Linked DNA regions of Homo sapiens: all the other regions are reported to be linked to region 1. Evidence: microRNA targets listed by miRTarBase, many of them from high-throughput screens and not tested one by one. Region 1 holds a microRNA gene; each other region holds the end of a gene's coding sequence.
Evidence for each region. The annotated mature microRNA hsa-miR-26a-5p reads UUCAAGUAAUCCAGGAUAGGCU and lies in region 1 at 3,731-3,752, opposite strand. An mRNA with a match to its seed (bases 2 to 7 or 8) in the 3' UTR can be bound and repressed. Matches are read on the target gene's strand: a 7mer-m8 pairs with bases 2 to 8, a 7mer-A1 pairs with bases 2 to 7 and ends in A, and an 8mer does both.

Region 1 (5,089 bases):
CTTGTTCTCTTTTTGAAATGCAAAAATAAGGACGAGGATTTTGAATCCCACTCCACTGGTTCATGCTCTAAGGCCTGGTGATAAGTCTGGCAGCATTTGTGCAAGTGGGGCTCTCCCGCCCCTCAATCATCACAGAGATGGACCCAACCAGCAATGGCCAGGCCAGCAAAGCAGTGGAACATGCAGAGGAAGAGAAGGGAGTATGGGCATCAGGGCACCGTCCAGAAGCAGGACATGGCGGAGGAAGCTACTGTGTGATGTCCTGGAGACAGGCAAATGGTTAACCTGGGCCCCAGAAAACTCATCTTTGGGACCACTCAGGGTCCCTGAGATGCCCATGGAGACAACTGTGGTGCTACCAACAAATGGATGGTGTCAGCCCCATCAGAGTCAGAGTTTGGGAAATGGTCAAGGCAAAGATCTCCTGGGAGAAGCAAGGCCTACCCTGCCTGCCCCACACAGCACAGGCACCCTGCCACACCTGTGAAGGGGGAGACTAAACCATACTGGGAGGCTTGGGAACCTGCTAGTTTCCTTAAACAGTGGAGAGGACAAAGAAACCATTCTATTTGATCAGAGCCAGTGTAGATTTTAGGTCAGATTCATATCAAGCTTTAGGATCAAGATATGTCTGAATGATTTTATCATCACCAATAAATATATGTATATATATTTTTGAGACGGAGTCACTGTCGCCCAGGGTGGAGTGCAGTGGCATGATCTTGGCTCACTGCAACCTCTGCCTTCTGGGTTCAAGCAATTCTCGTGCCTCAGCCTCCCGAGTAGCTGGGATTACAGATGCCCGCCACCATGCCCAGTTAATTTTTGTATTTTGAGACGGGATTTCACCATGTTGGCCAGGTTGGTCTTGAACTCCTGACCTCAGGTGATACGCCCTCCTTGGCCTCCCAAAGTGTTGGGATTACAGGCATGAGCAACCGCGCCCGGCCTATCATCATCAACAAATAATTGTAACACAAAATAATGAACATCAGGAGTGCTTATCATGTGACAATGCCCAGCACAGTATGTGGAACACAGCAAGTGCTCAATGAATACTTGCTGTATGTGAGCCAGACACTGTGCTAAGTCCTTTACATATGTTATTTCATGTGATCTAGCCACAAGGTAGCTGGAATTATCCCCAATTTATAGAAGAAACTGACATGAGAAGTGAAGTAACTTGCCTCAGATCATACAGCTCATTAGGGCAGTTGGAACTCTCATTCAGCCCAAGCATGTGGGTGAGTGTCCAACACTTATCTCTCACTTGCTTCTCCCTCAAATCTGTGAAAGCAAAACCCAAGGACACAGGGGCCTCTAGCAGTTGGCTGACAGTCAATGGTTGAGGGGTACACCATCCTTTGTCCATTACACTGGACCTGTTTGTGATTCTCTGGACTGTGGACACCCAGCTTCAGGTGGCTGCACACAGCAACTTCATGGAGCATTTGTTCTAAGTGCTCCCTGTCACCATGGTAACCCAGAAGGCTTTCAGACTGGCACCATGCACATGGCCTGCATCCATCCCATCTGGGGTGGGAACCTGTCACCATAGAAATGGCTTCCCCCACCAAAACAAAGGGCTGCTTGACAGATTGGGGGTAGGGGTGGAGGGGCTGGGAGTACCAGGCTGGGAGTGTGGGGCTGGGAAGCAGGACTCACCTTGGCCAAGCTGGCAGTAAAGAGCACACATTCAAAAAGCTGCCCCATCCTCTGGAGGAACTCGTCCACATGTGGCCGCTTCAGCACATACACCTGCAATGGCAGGAGACAGCAGGCTGGTCAGATGTGGCAGTTGCTGGGGATGGCCTGGGGCCCAAATGCCCACTGTAGGAAGAATTGCTACAAAGGTTCCTGCCTCCCTCCCCCAGGTCTATGCATAGCAGGCAGAGGCCTAGACTGTATGAGGGGCTATGGAGTCAGACGTGGCACTCCTCAGACAGGGCTCCAGGTCTGAGTTCACTGCAGACGCCCCTCCTAAGGGAAAAAGAGAAGCTGACCATGGTGTGAGGGTCTTGGGGATATTCAGGGCCAGCAAATGGAAGGGTTGTACCATGTTTGTGTGTAATGACTCATTCATTTCACGTGTGTTTCTTGGCACCTGCTGAGGGTCAGGACCTGTGTGGGCACGGGCCACGGTCTGGGTGTTGTCCTTTCAGAGGTCCAGGCCCAGCATATTGCCCAGCAGGTCTGGGATTGCTCCGGCTGCCACCTTCTGTTCTGGATGGACATCCCCCTTACTAGGAAGGTCTGGGGTTGAAGCACAGGCCCAGCAAAGCTGCAAGAAGGGGCTTCCTTGTCAGCTTGGGAAGCTGTCTATGACACCATAAAGGGTGGGCTTGGTATGTTTCAGGGGATGTGAAACCATCGCTATTCCTGGACCCCAGACATAATCCATCAGGAGGGGTCTCTGAGCAGAGGGGTGCAAAGAGTAGCCTTTTCTAGAATGGCTGGGCTCTGTGCACCCTTTTGACCAGGCCAGGCCAGGGGGTAGCAGTGAGGAGGCCAGGCTTCAGACCATACATAGGTTCTTGATTAGGGAGCCTGAATGAATCTGGGGAAACAAGGGAGATGGGAGAGAAGGCAAAGCTGGTGAGAGAAGACAGAGGAAGTGGGAGGAGGGAAGAACTAATTCAAACTTGAATAAATTCCGTTTGAAATTAGCCACTTCACTAAAATAAATCAAACTCTTTAAAATTCAATTCAGCATGTTTACTGAGCCTCAGCTCTGAGCTCAGCCTGATGTAGTTGCAAAGATGAATAAAACACAGGCCTTGCCCTTGAAGAGCTCATACTCTAGAACAGACATAGGCAAAAACATATAAAAATAAACATGGCATAATGAAAGTTGTAGTAGAGGGATAAATTAAGGACAATTAACTCCCCTCACAAGGGGAGGGGATCATAGAAGATAACATTTGGCCTGGACCTTGAAGGAGTTCACCAGGCCAATAAGGTTGAGAAGAAGTGGGCTTTCAGGCAGAGGAAACAGTAGAGGGTGAGACCCGAGGCCTGAGAATACTTGAGAAGCTAGAGAGTAGCCAGGCTGTGTGCCCAGCCATCAGAGGTAGTGAGAGAAGCCGGAGCAGCAGGGTCTGGGAGAGGAAGTGGCTGAAGATGAAGTGAGAGGCAGGTCACAGTGGGCACATTAGGGCCTTGAATGGCAGATGGAGCAGGTGAGAATGGCAGGAGGAGCAGCAGAGGGGAGATGAGGGCTCTGCACCACATGCTGGGTGTGCTGCTGGCCGAGGAATTCTATACAGAACCAAGTCATTTTCAAGGTGCCAGAAGCAGGAGCTCAGGAGGGCCAGGACTCAGTGGGAAATTCATGGGTGACTGAAAGAAGGAGGTGGACATGGATTTGTGGCTGAGGGTGGAGCGAGGGGCTGGAGGAACAGGATGTCGTAGCACGGGTGCCAACACAGCTCTGAGGAGCTGGGAGGCTGGGGTAGGGCTGAGGGCAGGGCCTGTGGCTGCAACAGCTGCAGACTCCCACTTTGCCCACAAGACTCCTCGTTGCCAGCAAACGGGTGTGGCCTGTAGTCCTCAGTCACCCTGGGAGTCCTGCTTGGAAAGCAAGCTTTGCTACATGCAAAGGGCAGGAGACTGATTTGTGAACTCTGGTGTTGGTGCCTCTGGCAGAGAGGGGGGTCCTGAGCCCGGATGCCGGCGTCCAGGCCCGCGTCCCCGTGCAAGTAACCAAGAATAGGCCCATTGGGACCTGCACAGCCTATCCTGGATTACTTGAACGAGGCCACGGCCTTCGCCAGGGCCTTGGTCCTCCTGCTCTTGGCTCCTGTGGCTTCATTCCCTCGGGAGAGAATTTCTGACCCCAGCCCTGGGACCTTGTGATATCACAGCACAGCCAGGATGGAGGGTGGGGGAGCTCCTGCAAGAATGGGTCAGCAGTGGGCAGGCCAGTCATGCTTACAGTCACGTGGTACAAAGGATTAATTTCTCTCCTAATTCTTGCTATGCCATTGGGCAGCCTCTCCTTTGTCTCATCATGAGCACTATGTAACACAAGCCAAGATGATAAATGCAGAAGCCTTAACTGCTTCTCAGATGCTGAGTTAATTCAGTTGATGCTTTTGCAAATGTTAAATGCCCAAGTGCCTGCCGTTTTGGCTCTGTGATGGCTTTTAAAAGCATGAAGTGTGGAAACACTAGGAAAAAAGCTGCCTCTCCCCGGGACTGTTTCCTGGCAGGATGTCCTGGAGAATAAGCAAGAAAGCAAGGACATGGGAGGGAAGGGACTTGCGTATCAGGAAAAGAGCCCTGGGCCAGGAGGCAGGAGACTGGAATTTTCATTTTAATTCTTCCCATCGTATGACCTTTAACCAACCCCTTCCCTGGCGGAGCCTCAGTTTCTCCATCTAGACAATGAGGCAGCTGGACCAGCTGATTCCCAAGCTTTCTCCAGTTCTGACACCTTGCACTCAAGAACCAAAGACTACTGACATTGCTAAGAAAAGACATCCCGTTGTGGCTCAAGTACCAGGAAAGTCTCCTTCCTGGGATATCAGGCCAGATACGCTCCCTTTAAGACCTTGGACTTGACAAGGAAGATGGTTAGATCATCCCTGTGGAAAATCTGACAAAAGCCCCCCAGCTTCAACCTCTAAAGCTAGTTTTCCTACAACATTCCCAATTTGTTCATAAATGAAGTTATTTCCGGAAGAGCTTTATGCAGATAAGGAAAAAAAATCAGAAGCAACGAAGACGCATGCCAACTGACTACGGCATCTTTATTCATAGCAGCCTGCGGATCCGAAAACTCACACCCTTCCCCCTTTTTCTTTTGGGGTGGGTATTTGCTAAAGATTCTCTGGAGAAAACGATGCAGGAATGATAAGATCAGTCTGGAGCAGCTGGCATTGAAAATGGACACTTTTTCCCGAGAGTCCACCATAAGTGGGTGACTTGTGGCATTTTCCTGTTGCCTGCTAGGAGAGTAGCCGAAAGCAATTACACAAGGAAGTTAATTAGACCATCAAGCTAGGCCAGTGGGGGATACGGAAACTTCTGAAATTCAAATCAAAGAACTATTTGAACTTGCAACCGCATCTAATATTTACGACTATAG
Region 2 (5,089 bases), not on the chromosome of region 1:
GATAACTCCAGCTACTGAGGAGGCTGAGGCAGGAAAATCGCGTGAACCTGGGAGGGGGAGGTTGCAGTGAGCCAAGATTGCACCGTTGTACTCCAGCCTAGGTGACAAGAGTGAGACTCCCACCTCAAAAAAAAAAAAAAAAAGCAGTTTTCTGTCCAAGTTAAGTCTTTTCCTGTTGTAGTCTAACTGGTCTCAGGATTTCTGAAATCTTAGGTCAGGAAGTGACCCGTTGCTTAAGCCCACCCTTTCTACACTCATACCACAGACACAAGCCTGCCCTCTTCTCTGTGCTTGTAGCCTTCAGGAGAGAAAGCTCTTTGTCTGTGGCCTCCCTCTGAGAGAAGGAATCAGAAAGGGGCCTTAGTAGGAAAATCTAATGAACTCAAATAAGAGCTTCGTACCGTTAGTGGCTGCTGCTGCTTGAAATCCACTTGCATTTATGCTCTTACCATTAGCTTTCCTCTTCACATTCCAGGGTCAAGGCAAAGATAAAGATTTGAATTCTAAGTCAGCCAGTGACCTCTCAGAAGATCTGTTCAAAGTACACGATTTTGATGTGAAGATTGACTTACAAGTTCCCAGCTCAGGTATGTGAGGGTGGGGCGGGTGGTGAGGGCTGAGAACCAGATGGATCCATGGTTTTCTGGGGCAACAAGGAAGCCCACTTTTAGGGAAGAAAGGGGAATGCTGGCTCATCAGCATCCACAGGCCAGGCCAAGACAGGCTGTGGGTATGGTGAGAGGGAACAGGGCCACAGTCAGGAGGCTGCCTGCAGGAGTGTAGCACAGGACTAAGAGGACTTTGTGGGACCTCAGCTGCCAACTTGCTCTTCTTTCCCACAGAGTCAAAGGCTTTAGCCATCACCTCCAAGGCTCCGCCAGCCAAGGATGGGGCTCCAAGGAGATCTCTGAACTTGGAAGACTACAAAAAACGACGAGGGCTTATTTGAGCACACCCAGCCTGCTGCTTCTGACCCTGCATGCCCCATCGCAGCGTCCCACCTTTCCTCCTTTCCTTTGATTTAGCCTCTTTGGGCTGGAGCAGCTGTTGAACTGGGAAGAGACTCTAAACTGCCAGTCATCTGTAATATAAACCATTTGCTGTATAGACCTCCTTTGTCTGCACACCATCTCCCACCAGCCTCCCCTCCCCCAGGGCCCCACCCAGTGTGGGCCTGGGCTCTCTTGGGCTTTATCCATGTCTTTAGATTTGTGTTTGCCTTTTGTTTTTTTAACCGCGCAGTTCATTGGCCACTCTGCACGCATTCAGTATTACCATGGAGCTGGGAATCTTGCTGGAGCCCCTGGGGCAATAGCAGCAGCACCAGGCGGTCTCCTCTACAGACTGCCTTGGCCCACCCATTGAACATTCGGCACGTGACCTTGTGGGGGGAGCGGGGATTGGGCACCTGCGATCCTCTTTCCTCTCTTCATCTTTCTCTTCTGCCCTTCTTTTTGGAAGAAGGGGTTTCAAAACCAGTTTAGTTTCCAAAAAGTGTACATTTGTGGGGGGGGGGGGTCTAATTTGAGAGCGAGAGTGTGTATGTGTGTGTGTGTAAGTGTGTGGATTTTTTTATCATTTTTTTAAAATGCAGTACTCTTTGTATCAGTCTGTCATGGGTCTATAGCTGTTTCAGATTTTTTTCAGCTGTACTTGAGCATCTGAAACTGCAAGAAAGAAACTCATTAAATGTGATTCTTCTTACTAAACAGGCCTGACTGCTGTAGCTGTGTAACTTCCCCATTCCCACCTACTCTTCCCATCCTTTCCCAACTTTGGAGAAAACTCCCCAGTTTAGCCCCCTGACCTGCAGGCTGTGTCCTGGCAGGTGTGGGAGGGAAGCCCATGGCCAGGTACCAGGGAGGGCAGTGAATGTCTTGCTCTTCCCATGGGTACAGCCCACAGCTTCTTGGCTGAACGTAGAACTTCTTTTTCTCACCCAGTATACCAGCCTCTTCCTGGTGATTCTGTTTTGCTGCTTTGGCAAGAACTACATTTTGTTTTTAAGAGAAATTTCTGAATATGAATGTGGAGAGCAAACACAAAAAGATTTAGGTTACGCCGGGTGCAGTAGCTCACGCCTGTAATCCCAGCACTTTGGGAGGCCTAGGCGGGTGGATCACCTGAGGTCAGGAGTTCAAGACCAATCTGACTAACACGGTGAAACCCCATCTCTACTAAAACTACAAAACTTAGCCGGGCATGGTGGTGCGTGCCTGTAATCCCAGCTACTCGGGGGGCTGAGACAGGAGAATCCCTTGAACCTGGGAGGCGGAGGTTGTGGTGAGCCAAGATCGTGCCACTGCACTCCAGTCTGGGTGACAGAGTGAGACTCCGCCTCAAAAAGATTTAGGTTGCAAATGTTTCAAGCATGTGCAGTTTTGTGTGTGTGTATACATATATATGGTCAGCATATATATTGTGCAGCTAGGGCGAAGCCAGCAGAGGTGTGTGTATGTCTTTATGAAATGTTTGAAAAGAGATAAACTGACTGCTTGATAATCACTCTCAGGTGTAAAGCTCCAAGTGTAAATAAAAGTGGCATTTAACAAATCTTTCAGAACAAAGTACAGCTGACTATATATACCAAGAGCTAAGCTAAAGGAACAGCTGAGAGCTCCGATCTCCACGAGAGACTAATCTAAAAGCTCTGCTTTGTACTTCCTCACCCTGCTTTCGTACAAGGAAGGGGGACGATGGGAAATCATGGACTTGTAAGTTGTATTTAAACATAAAAATGAACTTGGTAACTTCTGGGTTTAGTAGAGCCTCAGTGTCGCTTTAACTTAGTTTACTTTTTTTTTATTTTTAAAGCAGCAATGGATGGTTTTAAAGGAGTATTATGATTGTAAAATTGCTAAATATGACTGTAACACAGCTTTGTGGTAGCTGTGACACAGTTCACTTGGGCAAAGGAGTGGTGATGGACTCGTTAAAATCATATATACTTGAATAGTCCATTGACCGAAACTCTTTATAGACTATTGTGTAAATGTGGAATCACAGACTGTTAACATTGCCTGGACTTCAGCAGAGTCCTGGAGCTGCTGGGACCTCTCCTATCATGATGAACTTGGACTTTTTTTTTTGATTTCTGGTTTTAAAAAACATAAAATTATAGAATCCAGATAATTCGCTGGAGTCATTCTGATCCACCATGTAGATCTGTATTTAGTATCATTTGGATTTGGAGAAGTGTTGATTACATTATGGCTGTGTAATAAAATTTTTATTAAAACTGCATCACACTGTAGCCACTTTGCCACCACCTCCCCACATGTAGCCGCTGAAACCCCCACGAGATGCCAATGCACACAGCAGGGAGAAAAGCCAACCAAAGAAGACCGAAGGGTATCTTTCCACCCGAGTAGCCTCTGTAGTGATTGGGACCAAGACTAAGGACTTGTCTCCAATCTCAGCTGAGGCAGTGCCTCTGAACCAAGATCTTGGTCAGGCATTAAGACACTGGCTTTGTCCTACCAACTAGGATTTCTTGGTGGTTCACACTATTTCTTGTGCTGGGGAATTCCCTCATTGGGCCCCTCCTCCCTCCACAGTGTGGTTTCAGTGTTGAAGGGTGCAGCACCCAAGGTTGTTTTTATGCATTTTTTCAGTTCCTTCCAAGAAGCAAAAAGGCCAGTGTCCATCTGCCTAGTTCATAATGTTTATAGGTCTGTTTGTCTGTCTTGCTTCTGGCAGGTGTAGGGAAAGTCTACTGCCTGCCACTCCCTTCAAAAAGAATGTTTTTGCTTTTGTGAAGTCCTGACTTGCCACTCAAACTGTACCAATATTGTAAATAAATGTTATGCCATTTTAACAAAGGGATCAGATTGAGTCTAAGGATTGCATCCTGAGTGGCAACTCCTAAAGCCATGTTTTGAAAGTCCAAGAGAACCTCTCTTGCTCCTTTTCCTTCTTCTCTTAGCCCTGTGCCCACAAAAGTGAAAGTGGCCATCGTCAACTCTTTAGCAGCCTGGTTCCCCGGAAGCCTCTCTGGTAGGGTAGTTGCCTAGACCCAAGGAAACCTCCAGTTGTCCTGGTTTACTTCCTGTCTTGGTAAGAGACCAATAAGTTTTAACAGAGCTAAGTAGACCCCTGATGTACTGCCTAACCCTAGTGAGAATCTGGGCCTTTCAACCTTTTTTTTTTTAGCTGGGGTCTCTGCTGTCTAGGCTGGAGTGCGGTGGTGTAATCACAGCTCACTGCAGCCTCAACCTCCCGGGCTCAAGTGATCCTCCCACCTCACCATTCCAAGTAGCTGGGACTACAGTCATGCACCATCACACCCAGCTAATTTTTAAATTTTCTGTTGAGACGGAATATTGCTATGTTGCCCAGGCTGGTCTTGAACTCCTGGCCTCGAGTGATCCTCCCGCCTCAGCCTCCCAAAATGCTGGGATTGCAGGCATGAGCCACTGTGCTCAGCTCCTTTCAACTTTAAATTGGCCTAGGCACAGTTTCTTTGCTCTTCTTTTTTCTGGCTATCATGAGTTTGAAGGGGGTGCCCAAGGGCCATGAGTGTGGCTATGGAGGAAACACTGATCTTCCTTCATCCACGCACCCCTCATGCTGGGGAGGTCTATAGGCCTCCCCATCCCCAGTGCCTGAGGCTGTGTCTCCAACCTTTCTGAACACATTTTAGCTAGGAAGCAAGAAGATCCTGGATCTTCCACACCCTTTAAGAAGGCAAGGGATGGCAATCACAGTGATAAGAGCCACGTCCAAGACCGCTTCTGGTGGTGGAGAGGTTGCTTACCTGCAAGTGCGTCCAATGAGGTTTTCTCCAACTCCCCAGCACTCCCACTACCTAACTGGTGGGAGCAGTGGGACCTAGAGAGCAGGGGTTCTGGGCAGATGACAACATAGCTTGCTTATCTTCCAGGATTTGGGTGCTGTGGGGCAGCCACTTGCTACCTATCTCTGAGAATCCAGAAAGAACACCTGGGGTGCAAGTGGAGAGAAGAAGGGTGCTGGGTTGGTCAACTTCATCTCCCTGGCCACGTTTTTCCAGAAGGGAGATCTTCCTTCAGTAACTATAATGTGGCTGTGATCCAGCAGCCTTAGGAAGCCATCAACTCCCAGCTCAAAT
Region 3 (5,089 bases), not on the chromosome of region 1:
TACCCAGTCTGGAGTGCAGTGGCGCAGTCTTGGCTCACTGCAACCTCCACCTTCCGAGTAGCTGGGACTTCAGGTGCGCACCGCCTGGCCTGGCTAATTTTTTGTATTTTTAGTAGAGATGGGATTCTGGTCTCAAGCTCCTGGAGTTACGCAGTCCACCCTTCTCAGCCTCCCAAAGTGCTGGGATTACAGGCATGAGCCACTACACCCGGGCTACAATTTTGTTTTGTTTTTAATTTACAAGGTTCATGCCAACCTTCAGAAGCTATGGTTGAATTTGTGAGTTAGAAAAAAACCTGTTTTCAATTCTCTGAGTAAGAGTGGCTTTGGGATTAAGGGATATGAAAACTTCACTGATTACTCTCTTTACATTTCTTTCTTCCCCCAAATGATTTTGAGGCAGGGAAAGGTAGGGGATTGTTAAATATAATCTGGTTTGTCTAGGTGAGTCCAACAGAACAGAATATTAAGGTAGTTACAGTTAGGAAGGCTCCCAAATAATTGCACCAAGTAGATACAAATTTGGTTACTGGATTTGAGGGGCCAGATTGCCTAACTTCTTAGGATCTGTGATATTGATACAGAATTAGAGCAAAATCACTTAACTTGCTTGAGGATAAAATAATGTTGAGAATGGCGTTGGCATGAATGAGCTGCTGACAAGCTTGCTGTTGTTCCATTTTGTTCCATTTTGTCCCCTTTCAGTTGGTTACTGTATTTTCCCTTTCTTTGAAATGTAGTCATTCTTAACCCAGTAACCTTCCTATACAATCTGTACAGGTACATGAGCAATTTCAAATTTTATTTGGATTAAGTGTTTTTTATACTGAGGAACTAACTGTTCTTTCCATTTTATATCTAGCTTTTAGTATCACAGATCTACTTTTTGGATTTTTTTCCTCCCCTTTGATTGCAAAATGAATGGCAATATCATGCACTTTGTTGGGATTCTTTTTTAGTAGTATACAATGCATTCTCTTTGCTATGAGTAACCCCTGAAGCTGGAGATGGGTCCTAAATAAAGGATTCTAATTGCAGCTTTGGTTCTTCATCATACCTCCTTCCCCACATCAGCACGTGCAGAATTGAAAAGTTCAAACCTGACTGCCATTTGAAAAAGGGACATTGCAAATTTGTTTTCATTAACTTTGTTATCAATACATGTAGCCTGTGGTGTTAAAAATTTTAAAGGGAGAAAGAGGCAATTAGCATGAAATGTTCAAATGAATGGTTTGTGGTGCCTTTGACCATGCATATGTTGTTTTGGGAGGTCAGCTTGTTGGCTCTGTTGTAAGGTTTTAAATGGATTATCCTGTGAAAGAGATTGGGTATAGTGTTTCTCAGGTGTACAGAAGAAAAAAGTTATTAAACCTGACCATTCTGAGTCTCGCCTTACATTGTTTCAGGTATGATTAACAGTGTCAATTTAAAGCACTCAGCCACATAGCAGGATGAAAAAGTTAATGTAAAACTAATCCACCAAATAGAAAAATTTAATGTGGTTCTACTTTGAAGCAGAAATGGACTTGAGGGAAACTATTAAGCAAATTGAAGGACATTGCTCCTAGGTGAAACAATCCAAGTAATGTGGTAATTAGTACAGATTGTACTCCATACTGAGGCTTCAAGTACCATGTCTTAAAAGATGAGTGAGATACATGTGTCATAAGGACTTAACTTCATTTAGCCCCATCCACCCAACCAAACAAGTACCAAGAGGTGGTAGTTTTTACAAAGTCATTGTCCTTGCCTCTTTCAAATGAGATGGGTTGCTCCTCAGAAGAAAGTAGTTTTGTTTAATCAAAGTGATTGAGGATATCTGTACTCCCAAACTTTGCATAGGATTTAAAATACCATCTAGGCCGGGCACGGTGGCTCAGGCTTGTAATCCCAGCACTTTGGGAGGCCGAGGCAGGTGGATCATGAGGTCAGGAGGAGTTTAAGACCAGCCTAGCCAACACAGTGAAACCCCATCTCTACTAAAAATACAAAAATTAGCTGGGCATGGTGGCGAGCGCCTGTAATCCCAGCTACCCAGGAGGCTGAGGCAGGAGAATCGTTTGAACCCAGGAGGCAGAGGTGGCAGTGAGCCAAAATTGCACCACTGCACTCCAGTCTGGGCGACAGAGCTAGACTCCGTCTCAAAAAAAAAAAAAAAAAAAAAAAAAAAGTTTGGTACTGTTTGTTTTTGAGCTAGGGCTTTTAAAGAGGTGGTATGTCAGGATCAACAAGTTAGATCTTGGTCTCTGAGGGTGCTGATAAATACCTAGGTTGGTTTATCCCTGCCCCCCGCACGCCCCCCATAACCTCATTCCCTTGATTGATTATAATGTATACTGAGGTAACTTTATTTAATAATTTTACATTCTGTTAAATTTTTTTTTTTTTTTTGAGAGGAAGAAGTCTCACTCTGTCACCAGGCTGGAGTGCAGTAGCGCGATCTTGGCTCACTGCAACCTCCGCCTCCTTGGTTCAAGCGATTCTCCTACCTCAGCCTCCCAAGCAGCTGGGACTACAGGGGCATGCCACCACGCCTGGCTAATTTCTTTTTGTATTTTTAGCAGAGACAGGGTTTCACTGTGTTAGCCAGGATGGTTGATCTTCTGACCTCGTGATCTGCCCGCCCTGGCCTCCCAAAGTGCTGGGATTACAGGCGTGAACCACTGTGCCCGGCAACATATTCTGTTAATATATTTAAAAAGCATTACCACTTATGACTGGAAAGAAAAAAAAAGTTCTCTCCAGAAGTATCTGTCTTGTCTTTTCCCCTCCCAGAATGAGTATTTTTGCTTTTACCTTAATGTTTGAGGGGGGAAATGAGTACATATGAGATCCCAATAAGAAACCAATACAAAAAGTTTATACTGAGCTAAAAAAAAAAAAAAAAAGATACCTTGACTATGAAATTTTAAGGTTATTTTTATTTACAACTTTTGAAAAATGTACATTTTTTTTTACATGGGTTACTTGTGCAAAGTTAGATTTGGAAGTGATAAATGCATAAAAGGTGACAATAGAACATTAGACAAAACATTTACAAGCCTTGTCCCATACTGCTACTTAAAGGTACTATATATCTAAAAGTATAAATATCCAAAAAAAGATCGCAGACATTGGCTTTAAGGTTCTCAGATGCTGAAAGGGAAGAAATTAAAGCATGCAGCAATAACTCAGGATTTGAGTGGAAAATAGTTTGCCACAGATATGCTATGCTCCCTTCCTTGAATTCATTAAAACTCTAAAATAAAGATGGACAATTGAGTTTATTCACTTAGGGCAGCACTGATCCTTTAAAAAGATTAAAGGAGCTCCAACTTTCCCTAGCTCAAAAACTCACGATTGTTTCCATTCCTCTGCTCCCACACCTCTTTTAAAAAGCAAAAACCCAGAAGACCAATAATTCTGAAACTTGGCATGAGTGTGCCCAGTCAGCAGCTTGCAAAGAGAGGATGTGTCAGTTACTACAATTGCTGTACTCCTTTAGCTGAGTCCTTCAACTTTCTCCTTCTTGCCAGTAAATACTACGTTGTAATTCATATGACTGAGATCTTAGTATCACAGGATTTTTAGCTCCCATGCCTCCTTCAAAATTGTTTACATGGATTTGTTTCTATTCTCTGTAGGCCATATTCCAAACACATTCACTTCTAAATCCAACACAAGTGAAGGACCAGCCAGGATGAAACACTTCAGCAATCATTTTGTTAAAAATAACATCCTGGTCATCAAGCTAAGCATAAGCACCTCTTGTATAACAATTCATCTTAAAAGCTTAAAGTACAATAATAAAAATAACTGCCTGAAAACTGGAAATGAAATACAACAGAAAAACTGAAGCATTAGTAATTTTTGCAAGTAACCCAGGTACAGTACATTTGATTTCATAGAGGGTGTTTTCTGATGTTTAAGGAGAGGGTAGAAGGGGTAGGAAAACTTGGCAAGGAAGATGGAAACAGCACAACAGTTATTTTGCTTTTAATAAAGTAAATGTAATGACAGGAGTAGGGAGGTGACAAACACATCAATATATATTTTTCTTATGGCCAGCTTCTTTAAACTGTACCCGGGGTCAACAATCACGCCAGCTTTGTTCTACTATTGCAGAAACACGCTTTTCATATTCCCGTTTGTTCTCCTGGTACAGCTGAGCAGCCTGGCTGTTTGCTGGACTATTGGGATTGGGTTCATCCAACAGAGACTAAAGAGACAATTTTTAAAATGTCAGTTCCTTAATGCAAAACAACTATTTTATAAGGTAGTGACACTCAATTGAATTGTCCTAAGTACAGCTACATTTCTTGTCTTTAGCATACAAACCCAGAGTTATGTGAATCTGCTAGTAGCTAGGAAAATATATGCGGCTTTTTTTTTTTTTAAGGGAGAAGAGTCTCACTATGTTGCCCAGGCTGGTCTCAAACTCCTGAACTCAAGCAATCCTCCCACCTTGGCCTGCCAAAGTGCTGAGGTTACAGGTGTGAGCGACTGTACCCAGCTGACTTGGGTCTTAATGGTCTACTTTTCATCTATAAAACAAACAAGCTTTGACCAAAAATAAAAAGATCTATTACATTATGACTTTCAAAAACAATTCAATTGCTAATATAAACATATTAAAAGTTATAGTTCGTCACATTAAGGAAAAATTCACCTGTATGGATGTTAGAATGGAAGACACATCATAGGTTGGACTCCAACGGTTCTGAAGTATGTCCAGACATATACTACCATCTGCATAGACTAAGAACAAAGAAGTAGGTACATTAAACGTAACAAGACCACTAAGGTTTTAACATTATAGACAAAACAAAAATAGTCAAGAATACTTTGCTTTTGAAGTTTAAAGATTCCTATGTTGCTTCCCAGTTAACTGCCTAAAAAGATAAGTCATAACCACCACTAGTGAAATAATCAGGATGATCAGAGAATGTCAGATGTGATCAGTATAAAACTGGAAGATATTTAGTGTTCATCCTTTGGAAAAGGCTGCCCTATTATCCAGGAAATCAGAAACATTTTTGAACAGGGTCCCTAGCTATCCACAGACATGTGGGAAATTCATTCCACCAAATTTGTAGGCTGTATCCCCTAT
Region 4 (5,089 bases), not on the chromosome of region 1:
AAGGTGGGTGGATCACCTGAGGTCAGGAGTTCGAGACCAGCCTGGCCAACATGGTGAAACCCCATCTCTACTAAAAATACAAAAATTAGGTCAGGCATGGTGGCTCACGCCTGTAATCCCAGCACTTTGGGAGACTGAAGCAGGCGGATCATGAGGTCAAGAGATGGAGACCATCCTGGCCAACATGGTGAAACCCTGTCTCTACTAAAAATACAAAAATGGCTGGGCACGGTGGCTCATGCCTGTAATCCCAGCACTTTGGGAGGCCGAGGTGGGTGGATCACGTTAGGTCGGGAGTTCAAGACTAGCCTGACCAACATGGAGAAACCCCATCTCTACTAAAAATACAAAATTAGCTGGGCATGGTGGCACATGGCTGTAATCCCAGCTACTTCAGGAAGCTGAGGCAGGAGAATCACTTGAACCCAGGAGGTGAGGTTGCCGTGAGCCGAGATCGCGCCAGTGCACTCCAGCCTGGGCAATAAGAGTGAAACTCCGTCTCAAAAAAAAAAAAAACACTAAAATTAGCTGTGCATGGTGGCGCGCGCCTGTAGTCCCAGCTACTCAGGAGACTGAGGCAGGAGAATCGCTTGAACCCAGGAGGCAGAGGTTGCAGTGAGCCGAGATGGTGCCACTGCACTCCAGCCTGAATGACAGAGTGAAACTCCGTCTCAAAAAAAAAAAAAAAAAAAAAAAAAAAACACAGAAACTCTGGCAGCCATCACAGTGTGATTATTTGTTTATTTCATTAAATGTTTAACGAGGCTACATTGTTTCCCAAACCAATGTCTAATTTGTGAAGGAAACAGCGCAGAGAAGGAAGCTGGGTGACTCCTGCATCTGGGGTGGGGAAGGGAGTAAGGTCCCCTCCCTCCATCCTACAGAGGCCTTTGAGGATCAGCAACAGTCCCATTCCCTCCTCCCACCCACTGAGCTCCTCAGCCCAGAGCCCTCCTCCCCAGAAATAAAACGTCTGGCAACCCAGACCTGCAGAAAGGGACCAAAAATCCATTCCTGGTGGTATTGAAAATGTATTAAACTTTGGGGGGTCCTCCAGCTGATTGATTTTTCTAATTATGTTTGCTTTAGATGGATATTTAAATGCATTTGCATTCCCTGAGCTCACATGGCAGGATATGGAGGTTGGAGGAAAGAGGGGGCACAAACACTCCACACTCTGCACTTTGGTGGTTGCAGGCTTGAACCTGCTATACACTGAGAAGTCCAAAGTGGAAAAGAGAAGCCACTCAGCTAAAAATCGCAAGTCGATTTTTATGGCAGGTCCTTGTGGGGAAAGGGTCAGTCCTCAGAGACAGATGGAGATCCACCTAGCTGGGCCTGGAGCCCCTGCCCTCTCCTGTACCCTTAGCCGAGGACTCAGGGTCTTTGAGTCAGTCCCTAACCAGGTCTCAGTTTGAGGGGGTGGTTATCCAAGCACACTTAGATAATTTCAAATGCCATTGAAGTTATCCTAGAATCTTTGAGACTGGCTGAGATGAACTAGTCCCATAGGAGAGGTTGGGATAGGGATATCTGATGATCCAGGGAGTGGTGGGTAGGGATTCCTTTCCTCTCAAGACTGGAACCTGGCATAAGGGAAAGGAGAAGCTATTTTTTATTTTTTATTTTTTAATTTTTTTTAGAGACAGGGTCTCACTCTGACACTCAGGCTGGAAGACAATGGCATGATCATAGCTCACTGCAGTCTCTAACTCCTGGCCTCAAGCGATCCTCCCAGCTTGGCCTCCCAAAGGAGGAATCTTGGCTGGGATTATAGGTGTGAGCCACTGCCGAGAAGCTATTATTTTAAATGACACACCTCAGAGCCAAATCTCCCAGCTCCAACACCACATCCAGATAACCATCTATCCAAAAAACAACTCTGATCACTTCACTCTCTGCCTGAAATTCCTGGTGGCTTCATCCTCTGAGGATGATTTCATTCATCCTCAGAATGAAATTCTGATTCCTCTGTGGACCCTGCAGTAGCCTCAGTGTACCTTCCTAGCCTTGTCTTCTATTCTCCCTGCCATGGGAGCCCCAACAGTGCTATGCTCATTCTCATCTCCACGTGTTTACACATGCTGTACCCTCTGCCCAGAGTGCCTTTCCTACCCCTTCCCTGCCCGGAAAACTCCTCTTCAACCCTCAGGACCTGGCTCACAGGACTGGCTTCTCAGGCTGCAAGGAGCTCCCATAGCATCCCATACATGTACAAATATCCCTCAGCCATGGCACCCTCACACCTGAGGTACCTCTCTTCCACACTGGGCTGGCCTCCAAAAGCTTAGAGACTGGTCCTTGCAATCTCCCAAGCCAGTGTATGCCACACAGTTGGTGTTCAGTACATACTTGCTGAATGAATGAATGAGGGAGGAATGGGCTATAAATTTGGGTGGGATCCCAGCAGATAGTTGGGTAAGGTCAGTGTTCTCTTCCAGTGTGTCTGGGAGAACTGGCTAGGGCTGGGGGAGGGAAGGGCCAGGGATGGTTCCTGGGGGAGAATGTCACCGAAAAGAGGCCAGTGGGACCAGAGCCAGGAAGGGAATACAGGACAATCTGAAACCAGACTCCCGAGAAAACAGACCAGTACTGTCTTTCCTGACAACAGGCGCTCAGCCGTCCTCTCCACCGTCTTTCCTTTAAGGGACAGGGTAGGGGTGACTCTAACAGCTGATGCTCCCCTGAAAGCCATCATGAAACTCAGCATGGGAGGAGAGAAAGGTCCCTGGCCTGAGCCTCTAAGGAGACCCCAGAATCAAACTACTGACCTCTTAGGAAACTTCACGCTGTACAGGGGTAGCTTCTGTGATGTGGAGGCTTTTGATGCCTTCTTTTTTTTTTTTTTTTTTTTTTTTGGAGACAGAGTCTTGCTCTGTCATCCAGGCTAGAATGCAGTGGCGCAATCTCGGCTCACTGCAAGCTCCGCCTCCCAGGTTCACCCGGGTTCACACCATTCTCCTGCCTCAGCCTCCCGAGCAGCTGGGACTACAGGCACTGCCACCGCGCCTGGCTAATTTTTTGTATTTTTAGTAGAGATGGGGTTTCACCGTGTTAGCCAGGATGGTCTCGATCTCCTGAACTTGTGATCCGCCCACCTCGGCCTCCCAAAGTGCTGGGATTACAGGCGTGAGCCAGCGCGCCCGGCCTGATGCCTCCTTATCCCCACAACCCCCAGGGTACCAGCAGGCTCCAAGCCAGGGGTACAGATGGTGAGCAGGACCCCTCCCACACTAGCAGCAGGCCTGGCTGGGCTGAGAAATGCTGACTAATTATATGTCGGTCTGCTCTAAAACCCCCTAATGGCCTGAGAATTGCCCACTTCATTAACTAGGATGAACAGTCCCAGGATGTCTCCTTCTCCCAACTCTGACTCCTAAAAGGACACTTCTGATCCAACCTATGGCTTTGTCCTCTGCTCTATCTGTGGACATGGACAGGAAAGTTCCCCAGCTGAGGTCTAACTTTCCCTCTTACTGCTAAAGATTGGTAGATTGATTTTTTTAAAAAGCAACAAAACTAAAGCCACAGCCGTTTTCCATGGAGGTGGGCTTTATTAGGTGACTGTTGAGGCAAGGGAGGTTCTAGGGCTGGTGGACTGATGGGGGGCAAGGGCTTCTCCTTGCTTTTGAATTTAGTGCATGTTGCCTAGAGGTTAGATGTGTGAGAATAGCTGCAGAAGTGAGAGGAGAGGAAAAGAGAAGGTCATAGAATGGACATTTTCCTTGGGCCAGAACCAGGATATGGGGACTGGGGGTGGAGAGGGAGGGTACTCTTCACATAGGAGACTCCACCAAGGTCACCATTTGATACCAGCTTCCCTAACGCCCACCTGCCCCATCCCAGTTCATGCCCCAGATGCCAGCCCTGTTAGCTCCCTCAACATCCACTGGAGAAGAGGAGGGAGGAGGAGATGAGAAACGATGATACCCTTCTGCCCTCCAGCTCCCCTGCCCAGAATTGCTCGCTCTGCCTGCCCTAACTTCCCAGCCAGGATCAGGAGGTCAGGAAGCCTGGGCGCAGGCAGGGGAACAATTGTGTCCCTCACCACCCCTCTTCACACTCTGCCCTCTCCTAGCCCCTCACATGAGGTTGCAGCTTTTGGCTCGATCCTTGTGTATCTCGCCCTCATTCCCCCGGTCTGGCCGTCCTGACAGCTGAGCGGATCGCTGCATTCCCCGGCGTGAGTCAGTTCGGCGCAGCTGCCTATGGCCACGGCCAAGGGAGGCCACTGTAGCCACATGGAAGACATCCCTGACGCTGCGCTCAGAGGACCGGGAGGAGCACTCAACATAGGACACAGCCCCCACCTGCTTGGCCAGCACAGTGCCCTGGAAAAGGAAGGAGTGCATGGGAGAAAGTTATAGGTCTTAGCCTGCAGCTTAGAAAGGGGCATGGAGGCTGTGGGCTGGGGTTGAATGTCAAGGCTGGGGGCAGTCAAGGGATCAGGTCAGAGGTCACAGACCAGAACAAAGGATGAGCCAGGTAAGGTGTTTTCAAATCAGAGACTGAAGGGGCAGAGGTGACAGGTCTAGGCTGGGATGAGGTCAGACGTCAAGGGTCCCACCTGCTCATGTGTAACAGGGATAAGCCTCTGCTTGGACAGCTCCCTCAGTGTGGCCAGGTCAGTCCGCATGTCCAGTTTACAGCCAACCAGCACAACCTTGGCATTGGGGCAGAACTCTTGAGTCTCTCCTTGCCACTATGTAGGAGAAGAAAAGAGAATTGTGGAGGGGTGGAGGGAGGCACAGCGTGAGCCTTTGTGCCATGCCAGCAGTGTGCCCTCTCTTCCTCAAGCACGCAGAAACCATGTATCCCTCAGGACTCTCCCACATGAGGAAGGAGGTGAGAATGCTAGGCTTGGTTTGAGAGCAGGATGGGGTGAGAGAGAAGCAGCGGGGAGGAGAGGGCTGGCGTGGGCCTGTGGACTCTTCTCCCTCAGTGGCTATGAAGGGTCTGCCAGCCTGGAAACTTCCCATTCCCACTCGCCTTTCCCATACTCTCTCCTGGGAACAAATTTATCCCACCCTCCCCTCCCCCACCTGGGAACTGGGGCTGCCCTAGCTGACTTCTGTCCATTCACCCCTGG
Region 5 (5,089 bases), not on the chromosome of region 1:
GCAACCTTTTGGGGGAAAAAGGCAGTAAAATACAATTTGAAATAATCAGTGGTGTTATAGAGCTCTCTTTGCTTAGATCATTGAGGACTAGTTCTTCCAATTTGAATTAAATGAATCCATTGGATTCTTATTTATTCTTAACTGAATGCACACTTTAAAGAGATACCCAAAGTGATTCATTAAATAATTTAAAATCACCTTTGTATTATATAGTGGCATGAGAAAGGAAATTAGGTGAAAATTCATGGGAATATTTTGTATATATTGGCAAATAACAACATAGCACCATTCTAGCAAATATGAAGAATAAACAAATAGTTACATTTTACGGTGGGAGAAACTAAAGTACATAGAGATTAATGGTTTACTGAAGACCAACTATATTGCTGTGGATATTAGTTGGAATAAAATAATGATTTTTGTCTTAGTTCTATAAACAAGTTGTATTATAGTTTTTGCAAGAACGTGTATGTAATTTTTGTCAGTGAAGTCAACATTGCTATTTTCTGCATTTAGGCCCTAAGACAGATATAAATATGTACATGTAAATAATCATAACAGAGAAAATAAGCATTTTGATAAAATATTTTATTAATAATAATAATATAATCATGGTTATAAAAATAACAACTTTATTAACTACAGAAAGTTTATAATACAAGTCATAACCACAGTGTTCCCTTTTTTGGGTAAGCATACAGCTATACCACTCAATAGGCAGCTTATTAATTTCCTATTTACATACAAGACAAACAGTCATAGCATCCACAGTATTTCATTTTCAGTTTCCTAAAGACAGAAACTTTCTGTGCAAATGGAAATGAACCTACTTAAAAGTTACACTGTCAAGATATATATGGTCCAAAAAATTTTAACTTTTTTTGTATTAGTAAATTCTTAGCTCCAACCTTAGTTGAATGTTGAATGATAACTTCTTTTTGGACTTTATCATGACAAGTGATTTATTTTAAAATTATGTATTTTAAAAACAAAGGCCATGTACTTTTACCAAAATTAGTTTTATTTTTTAAATGAGTTTGCCTATATGTATGGGATGTAATTAATTATAATAGTATTTTTTGAATCTCAATAAATTGATTTAAGGCTTTTTAGTATAAGATCTTATTAAAATTCTTTACCACATGATCTCTATATTGCAAAACCAGTATTTCTTTTAAAAAAGTTTAAAAACAACAATGAAATGCCTGACAGCAATTTCCCACTTCTTGACAGTGTTCTTTTCAAGAGAATGTTGTGGCTATAACATTCACTTTGTACAGTACCATTGGTACCAACAAGAAATATTCACAGGAATAAGTGAAATACAATTTTGCTATCACATGCCATTATTGTTAATTTTCTTGCCTTCCAGTGTCTCACACTTCCCATAATTTGAAACACTTAGATAGCAAGCAAAAGCCTGTTAATACTAGAAATTGACTCAATAGATTTTACTGAGGACCTGCCCACAGCATATAGGTAAAAGTCATTACACATTTTACAATAAAATTAAAGAAGTATACAAAAGGATTATCATTCCTTCTGCACGGCAGAGGCATTATGAAAAATATTTTAGTTTTACACTTCAATTCCTGGTAGACGTGAGAAAATGTCTACAATTATAACAGTACATAACCATTATTCAAACAGCCAAACCAAAAATTGCATTGAAACCTTCTGATTTAAAAGATCCTTTTGTCAATGACACAAAATAAAGTGGATTGTTGGATTTTTAAAAATGTTTAATGATTTATTCAGCAAAGAACACCTGGTAAATAGTGTCTTCCACCAGCAAATAATGACATGACTCTACCCTGTTCTACCACCTAAAATAACATGGACCTTGTTCATCTAAGTTTCATTGTCAATTCCACCCATGTCCCTCTATCACGAAAGGAGCCTCCCAAAGAGAGAATTACTTTGTACGGTTTGTTTGATGATTTATTGGTGGTATTGTTTTTAGCCTTTAATAAAATGAAAAATACTAGCCTCAAAATGTCTAAATACTTAGCTGTATCTTGTATCTAGCTAATCTTTATCTGTATTTCCAGGAAATTTAGAGGAAGAGTCATTAAAGAAGTATTTTTAAAATGTGAGTATTTAAAATTATGACAATTTTTATAAAAGTTTTACAAATATCATTAATATGCAATAATAAAATTTCACTGGTTCAGCCAGAAGAAACTATGAAATATACTTTATATTTTGGCAATATGCTCTTGAAATTTCTAGGAGTTCTTACTAAAATGGTGTATTATATAAGGAAAATAGAAATACCATCAGATAAGATGATAGAGACCAGCAACTAGTTGGATGTCTTTTTGCTTCCACTTTAAGTTTCTTGATGCCAGCACATATCTTATTATGAAAAAAAAATTGTATAAGCATTTCTGGACTCGCCGCCCTATATTCTGTGGACTAAGCTCTCCATAAACTTAAAACCATTTTAGTCCAGATTGAACAGTACTCTAAAGAGCTGGTAGGGAATTGTTTGGGGACTTGGCCTTGATAAAAATCACTCAAGAAAACTAAGTCAGAGAAATGGGACTACTGGATTCACACCATTCAAAAAATTATTTTTAAAGGTGTTTTGTACAGGAAGATTTCTGCAAAAATTCAAAGCCTATCCTATTACTTTTTGTTATTCTATTTCTCAACAAATACATGATCTTTAGCTAAGCATGACAAATACAATGATAAATATGATAATTTGGCTGTTATACAGAACACAAAATTTAAATGTCTGTTACATATGGCATTAGGAGTGAACTTTGTAAAATGAAATAAGAAAAAATAAACATATCTTGATAAAATATCTGATTCAACAGATTCCACTCTACTTCAAAAAAAAAATAAATGAATACAGAGTTGAGACAAACTAGTTTCTTTCCTTTTACAAGTTGTCTTTTACTTCAAAAAAGCTTTATTAGGCTAAAATCTTCCAGGTTGAGAAAAGTATTTTTATTTTTTTCTCCAATATATACTTTAATGCATGACTTGATGAAGGGTATTTATAAAACTTTGGAGACTTGGAAATTTTCCTCTTAAATTTTTTAAAATTTAAAGGCAGTGAGCTAGAAGCCAATCACAGCAGCAAGGCTTAGATTTAACCTATTTAAGTACATTTTTAATGACCAAAACACTTTTAAACTTCTTCAATTAGATACTGATCTGAGCACTTAAGAAATGCTTTAGGAAAATAGATCTACAAATATCTTGTGTAAATAAGTGGCCTTAAGTTTGGAGGAAACAAATTACACAAATAGAACTATTACCCTCTTTCCTTTAAGAATTAGAAACTACATGAAATAACTAGGATAATGAATACATGTAAACACCTAGATTAGGTGTTATTTAACTCTGGGTGATGGCCACACCTGAAATGCCAACCAAAGAAGATCATCTGCAGATTATGTATGGAGAATTAGCTAATCATTTTGATCTTGCATCATTTTTTAATATTTCTACTGGTCTTTAGAGATTTCTGGTTTTTTTGAGGTAAAACTATAGGTACATACTTCTAAAATATTTAGGGGTTACATTAGGTACACCATAATTTAAACTGTAGTGCATGCACATGTGTACCTAGGCATGTGTACATGGGTATGTGGTTTTGTAAAAAGTGTGTTCGTGTACCAGTATTGCAGGATACATGGTGAAGAGAAATGAATGAACTATAACATATAGCATATGAAATGTAATATAATTTAATATAGGGCTACAATTTAGGGACACAAGGTATAAATTGTTTTGGTGAGGTTAAAATAACATTTAATTTGTGGTTTACTCATTATTAAGAAACCAACATCAGAAAGCAGCTTAGACAGATTAATTGATTTTTTTTCCCATGAAATCTTTATCATCCAGCAAATATACCTGTGTGTTTTTTTAATCCATTCAAGTATCTTCAGGAGATATGTTATTACACTTGCATGTACCTTAATTCACTTCAACATTGACAAAATAACACTGACAAACAAAACAACAGAAAACACCCATAAACATTAATGAGAATTTCAACAAACATGACTCTCCAGTAGTTGTCTTAGGATTGTTGTAAGTGACATTTTAAATTCCACATTCTCTGAAATCTTCATGTAAAAGACAGTTGTATTGGTGGGTGCTTCAGACACACTTACTTCAGCTATGACTGTGGTACCTTATATGTTAAAATAATTTTGTGTATCCATTTTGCATAATATGCTACTCGGACAAAAATACCAGGACGATTTGGAATGGCACATCCACGACCAGGAACAATGACACCAAGAACCATTCTCATTTTATGTTGCTCACAAACAAGTGGGCCACCATAATCCCCCTAGGAGTAAGACATACAAAAACAAAGTATTATTAGGAATTAAAAAAAAGCTCATTAACATAATCATATATAGATTTGCATCTCAGAGATATATACAGAAAAAGAGAATAACTGCAACTGAAATATGAAGATATAAAAATTAGTGTACTAGACATTTGTTGACTTTCTACTGAATTAGCCAAGACTGAGATAAGTACAAAGTTTAAAGTGTTCTATTATGTGTGGTATTCTCCTAAAAATGACTTGCCTTTTCCAAAAGAGTCAACCATCCTTTTAAGTGTGCTTTGCCTTTGTTGGATGCAGACTAACATATAACCATCGGTGCCTATTTAATAAGGTAGATTTGATATTTATTTTGATCTTCTTATGTTCAATATAGGAAATTTGGAACATGTAGAAAAATACAAGTATAAAAGAAAATAACTTGTAATCATATAGTTTTAACAATTAAACTGCATTATATTTTTTCTTATTTCTAAAGCTTTTTTTTTTTGCCTCTCCCAATCCTGCCCTACATGATCTTAACAAGTTAAATAAAAAACTTGTTGTCAACAAAATAATTCTGTTAATTGAAATTGCTTTTCCAGGCAAGGAATATTCCTCCAGTTACTGCTGGTATTAGTAGTTAATATAGTTATAGTTATATTTTATACCCTCCTTTCTGTAGCGTGTCCTGTGATTTCATGGCATTTCTTATATGGTAAGCCTGTTGCATCATCAGATAGAGGAAAGATGAACAGATAGCTTTATTTGTGTTGTGTATATATA
Region 6 (5,000 bases), not on the chromosome of region 1:
ATCACTATGTGTGATAGAAATTAAGTGGATCAAATTTCATTGTATTTTTTTTTCTCTTGCAGGATGAAATCTTTGACATGGTAAAACCAAAGGATCCTTTGAAAATCTCTCTTCAGGATTTAATCAACAGTAATCAAGGAGACACAGTAACCACCATTCTAATCGATTTGAATGGCTTCTGGACTTACGAGAACAGAGAGGCTCTTGTTGCAAATGACAGTGAAAACTCTGCAGACCTTGATGATACATGATCTCTGAAAGACTAGACTGTCTTATATTATGAGATACTTGAATGCTGCATGTAAAGCCTTTAAAGCAAAATCCTCAGAAATGGTCTAAATAAAACACTTGATATGCCTAGAGAACACAGCAAATGTTTTGGTTACTGGAATTTTGGTTGCAATAGTTTAGAAGCAATAGGACCAAATATTGCTTGTTAGGAGGTGGGGTAAGTTCTGGTTCCTTTTAGTTCAAAGATGGGAAGTGTGATTTGCTGTAGGTAGATGATGTTCAGTTTAAATCTGTATAATCTTCAGAGATGAAGTTTCCATGGAATATTTCTGACAGTCATTTAGAATGTGAATATTTGACTGACAGTGCATATATATATACACACAACATGTGTGTGTGTGTGTGTCTATATATATAAAATCTCAAAGATGACAAACTTTCCCATTCATGAGTAGAGCCATTTTATTTCTGGGTTAGGATTAGGATTTTTTTTTAGGGGGGGTCAAGTGATTCTCCTGCCTCGGCCTCCTGAGTAGCTGGGATTATAGGCGCCTGCCAACACACCTGGCTAATTTTTGTATTTTAGCAGAGACAGGGTTTCACCATGTTGGCCAGGCTGGTCTCAAACTCCTGACCTCAAGTCATCTGCCCGCCTCGGCCTCCCAAAGTACTGGGATTACAGGTGTGAGGCACCACGCCCAGCCTTTTTGTTTTGCGGTTTTTTTTTTTTTTCTCTTGAGACAGTCTCCGTCTGTTGCCCAGGCTGGAGTGCAGTGGCATGATCTCTGCTCACTGCAGCCTCCACCTCCTAGCTTCAAGCGATTCTCCTGCCTCAGCCTCCTAAGCAGCTGGGACTTCAGGTGTGCACCACCATGCCTGGCTAATTTTTGTATTTTTAGTAGAGATGGGGGTCTTGCCATGTTGGCCAGGCTGGTCTCGAACTCCTGACCTCAGGTGATCCGCCTGCCTCGGCCTCCCAAAGTGCTGGGACTATAGCCACCATGATTCACAGTGATACGTGAGCCACGTGCCCAGCCTTGTTCTTTCTTTTAATTGGATGTTTTAATAAAATGTATTCAAACTAGTATTTTACTTTCATGAAAATCATTGGTATAAAAAATTTGTTGGCTGGGCACGGTGGCTTACGCCTGTAATCCCAGCACTTTGGGAGGCTGAGGTGGGCGGATCACGAGTTCAGGAGATTGAGACCATCCTGGCTAACACAGTGAAACCCCGTCTCTACTAAAAATACAAAAAATTAGCTGGGCGTGGTGGAGGGTGCCTGTAGTCCCAGCTACTCAGGAGGCTGAGGCAGGAGAATGGCGTGAACCCGGGAGGCGGAGCTTGCAGTGAGCCAAGATTGAGCCACTGCACTCCAGCCTGGCAACAGAGTGAGACTCCATCATCTCAAAAAAAAAAAAAAAAAAATTGTCTAGTTTTATTAACCAATACCAGAGTTACATTTTACAAAACTTAATTCCAAGCCCGGACAACATGGCAAAACCAAGTCTCTACAAAAAATAAATAAAAAACATTAGCTGGGCATGGTGGTGTGAGCCTGTAGTCCCAGATCCTTAGGAGGCTGACAGGGAAGGACTGCTTAAGCCCAGGAGGTCGAGGCTGGAGTGAGCCATGATTGCACTATTGCACTCCAGCCTGGGCAACACAGTAAGACCCTGTCCCAAACCAAAAAACAAACTTCATTTTGTTAAGGATTTTTGTTAAAGAATTTATGTTAATTCAGGATAAAGACTTCAGTTATACATTACATTTAGTTTTTATGAGATGCTGAAAGATTAGAAGAAGGTAAATATGAACTATGATCCAGAAGGAACTGGAATTCTGTTTTTTTTTTTTTTTTTGGAGACGAGTCTTGCTGTGTCGCCCAGGCTGGAGTACAATGGTGCAAACTCCATTCACTGCAACCTCCGCCTCCCAGGCTCAAGTGACTCTCCTGCCTCAGCCTCCCGAGCAGCTAGGATTACAAGCACCTGCTACCATGCCCGGCTAATTTTTGTATTTTTAGTAGAAATCCATCTCTACTAATTCACCATGTTGGCCAGGTTGGTCTCGGACTCCTGACCTAGTGATCCGCCCACCTTGGCCTCCCAAAGTGCTGGGACTACAGGCGTGGGCCACCGTGCCCAGCTGGAACTGGAATTCTTAAAAGGACTGAAAAGGAGATAGGAAAAAGTGAGTGAAAGAGGCTTAAAGTAAGACAAACCATTGAATACATTTATGGGAAATTTTATAGTTTGCATAAACAAAGTATAAACTTAAGGCACAGTGAATAACTATATTGATAAACATAAACTAGCCACTATTGGACAAGTAGCAAAAGTAAAATTCAAGAAACAAAACCTTCATAAGTCACTACTTCCTTTTGTTACAATCATAAAATTTTCTGGGTAAACTCTAGATACTAGTACCTCTAGGGAGACAGGATTCAGAAGATCACTTTTAGACACACCTATCTTCACTTGATAACCAAATAAATATCTGTGAGTGAGAGGTACTATCTCGAATGAAGTTAAAAACAAATTAGAAGGAAAAGGTCAGGTTAGCATGTTTTAGAACTATTGGTAAACTATAATTCATGGGACATTATATAATCAAAAGATTAATATTTTAAGCACTAAGTTATAAAGGGTTTACACCCATGAATAAAAAGATTACCATCACTTACTATGAACCACCATTCCATGAATCCATGTAGCTGAACACTCCTAATGAAAAGTTTAATTATCCTTCAACCTGTAGTTGAAGAACTCAGTTCATGTTCATTGACAGATTTCCATTACAGACCCACTATATTGATGTTACTTTCTTTGACACTATATTTTATATAGATATATTAAAATTGAAAACTTAATGCTGTTTAGAAGGCTATTAATATAACTATTAATTTCTGAAAGCTTTGAGTTTCTGAAAAGGCTTTTAAGATCAAAATTTCTGAAACACTCCACACATTCTTCCTCACCCACATTTAATTATAAATCAATGTTATACTGATAAAAGGTTCTATACACACATTTAGAGATATATGTGTGTGTGTGTGTGTCTGTGTGTGTGTATATATATATACTTTTTTCCCCCCAAGATGGAGTCTCACTCTGTCGCCCAGGCTGGAGTGCAGTGGTGCAATCTTGGCTCACTGCAACCTCCACCTCCCTGGTTCAAGTGATTCTCCTGCCTCAGCCTCCCGAGCAGCTGGGATTACAGACGTGCACCACCACGCCTGGCTAATTTTTGTATTTTTGTAGAGACGGGGTTTCACTACGTTGGCCAGGCTGGTCTCAAACTCCTGACCTCAAGTAATCTGCCCACTTCAGCCTCCCAAAGTGCTGGGATTACAGGTGTGAGCACCGTACCTGGCCATATTTAGGAATATTTTCAAAATTAGCTTCACAATATATACATTTGTAAGGTTTACAAATAACCAAGTAGGTAGAGGAGTGGCCAACCAGATTCAAGTAAACTGTCCAGTCTTCACTGTTGCTACTTCTAAATGATGAATGACGGGTAATTTCATTAGGCTATCATTGCACCTTATACAATATCTAATTGCTCCTGATGGATTAAATCTATACCTGTCCCACTATCCCCCAATCCCCTCCAAACCACTTTTCTATAGGATTAACGCTGAACCGATAACATAACCAGGATGCCACATGGATATTCACTAGGTATTAACATTAATAAATCTATTCTATAAGTAGTGTTTTAATATTATGTTCAAAGCTAGTTATTTGAGTCCTGAAAAAGAATACAAGATTAAGTAAGTGGCTTGCATTAAAAAATGGAAGCCTATCTTAATATCTGGTGTTATAAATACAGATTCTTACATAAAACAGTTATTCTCAATGAAAGAAAATTCAAAGTGCTTCCATCTTGCTCCTTTTATTATATGGTGAAGCATCCTTAGTGTGAAATTAATGGTTAGATATATAAATGCATGGCATAACATGAGAAAATCTAGGAGAAAATATCCTCATTTTAATCTAAGACTATGGAATTATCAATTCCAATTAGACTTAATCAGCAACTTACCTTTTTCAAAAAAAGCAAATGCACAAATAGGCTTGATAATTTAACTCTTCTTAACTATTAAGGCTCTAGGATGTCCTTAACTTTTTTAAAAGATCATTTTAAAACCAAAGCACTAATTTCTATACACAGTAAAAACAGTACAAATATCTGAATTTCAGATCTGGCTTTTGCTAGATAGATCCTAAAAATGAAGAAAACATTTTCCCTTTCCAGATACTTTAATAATTTAAAATATAAATAATTGTATTAAGTCCCACTGAATAAAGAATGTGAAAGTTTTTGTATTAAAAAAAAAAAACTTAAGAGTTTGAAGCTTGATAGTCATTTCATTTTATGGTGGGACAGAGACTGGATTTTGCTTGCTTTCCATAATTACTTCACTGTCTCCCTCCATTTCAAAATTGACATTCACAAATGAGCTGGATATCACTGTCTCTGGTTGATCTGTCTGAACAATGGAATCAGTCTGCAATTTATTCTGTTGATATTGTTTTTCTGCTTCTTCAGACATCCTGTTTTCTTCTTCTTCTTCTTCTTCCTAAAAAAAAGGAGCAATATCAAGAATAGTTGAAATACGAAAGTCCAAAAGGTATATAGTGCTGTTTTCCCCACTGTCAGCTTATGTTTAAAAAAAAAAAAAAAAAAAAGTGTCATGTTCAAATCAGTTTGGTCTAATTAAGACATACTTTCCCTTCTCCTGCTCTCTAATTGAAATAACC

Region 2: the mRNA of RTF1 is a reported target of hsa-miR-26a-5p. Seed matches in the 3' UTR shown: 7mer-m8 at 1,651-1,657 and 8mer at 2,946-2,953.
Region 3: the mRNA of UBE2A is a reported target of hsa-miR-26a-5p. The part of its 3' UTR that is shown has no 7-base or 8-base seed match.
Region 4: the mRNA of RND2 is a reported target of hsa-miR-26a-5p. The part of its 3' UTR that is shown has no 7-base or 8-base seed match.
Region 5: miRTarBase lists HGF as a target of hsa-miR-26a-5p. Seed matches in the 3' UTR shown: 8mer at 3,897-3,904.
Region 6: the mRNA of FAM177A1 is a reported target of hsa-miR-26a-5p. Seed matches in the 3' UTR shown: 8mer at 3,700-3,707, 7mer-m8 at 3,542-3,548 and 7mer-A1 at 3,407-3,413.

The regions. Positions count from the first base shown.
Region 1 is chr3:37,968,076-37,973,164 of GRCh38, reverse strand. It overlaps MIR26A1 (microRNA 26a-1), which reads right to left and starts at 3,761; the gene lies at 3,685-3,761. It overlaps CTDSPL (CTD small phosphatase like), which reads right to left. Exons shown (of 8, transcript NM_001008392.2): 6 at 1,666-1,758. RefSeq lists enhancers at 2,966-3,527, 3,528-4,091.
Region 2 is chr15:41,479,739-41,484,827 of GRCh38, forward strand. It overlaps RTF1 (RTF1 homolog, Paf1/RNA polymerase II complex component), which reads left to right. Exons shown (of 18, transcript NM_015138.5): 17 at 476-587; 18 at 843-3,825. The coding sequence ends at 949. LOC105370790 (a long non-coding RNA gene) reads right to left here. Exons shown (of 3, transcript XR_932169.3): 2 at 4,757-4,941. Among named protein-coding and RNA genes, the nearest start is that of ITPKA, 12 kb to the right of the region's middle. RefSeq lists an enhancer at 3,936-3,985.
Region 3 is chrX:119,582,236-119,587,324 of GRCh38, reverse strand. It overlaps UBE2A (ubiquitin conjugating enzyme E2 A), which reads right to left. Exons shown (of 6, transcript NM_003336.4): 5 at 4,649-4,737; 6 at 2,902-4,198. The coding sequence ends at 4,070. Among named protein-coding and RNA genes, the nearest start is that of UBE2A, 10 kb to the right of the region's middle.
Region 4 is chr17:43,027,674-43,032,762 of GRCh38, reverse strand. It overlaps RND2 (Rho family GTPase 2), which reads right to left. Exons shown (of 5, transcript NM_005440.5): 4 at 4,568-4,702; 5 at 722-4,331. The coding sequence ends at 4,083. Among named protein-coding and RNA genes, the nearest start is that of RND2, 5.0 kb to the right of the region's middle.
Region 5 is chr7:81,698,437-81,703,525 of GRCh38, forward strand. HGF (hepatocyte growth factor) reads right to left here. Exons shown (of 18, transcript NM_000601.6): 18 at 574-4,321. The coding sequence ends at 4,145. Among named protein-coding and RNA genes, the nearest start is that of HGF, 69 kb to the right of the region's middle.
Region 6 is chr14:35,080,841-35,085,840 of GRCh38, reverse strand. FAM177A1 (family with sequence similarity 177 member A1) reads right to left here. Exons shown (of 5, transcript NM_173607.5): 5 at 2,463-4,819. The coding sequence ends at 4,613. It overlaps PPP2R3C (protein phosphatase 2 regulatory subunit B''gamma), which reads left to right. Exons shown (of 13, transcript NM_017917.4): 13 at 63-369. The coding sequence ends at 251. It overlaps LOC101927178 (a long non-coding RNA gene), which reads right to left and starts at 4,760. Exons shown (of 5, transcript NR_110415.1): 1 at 4,282-4,760.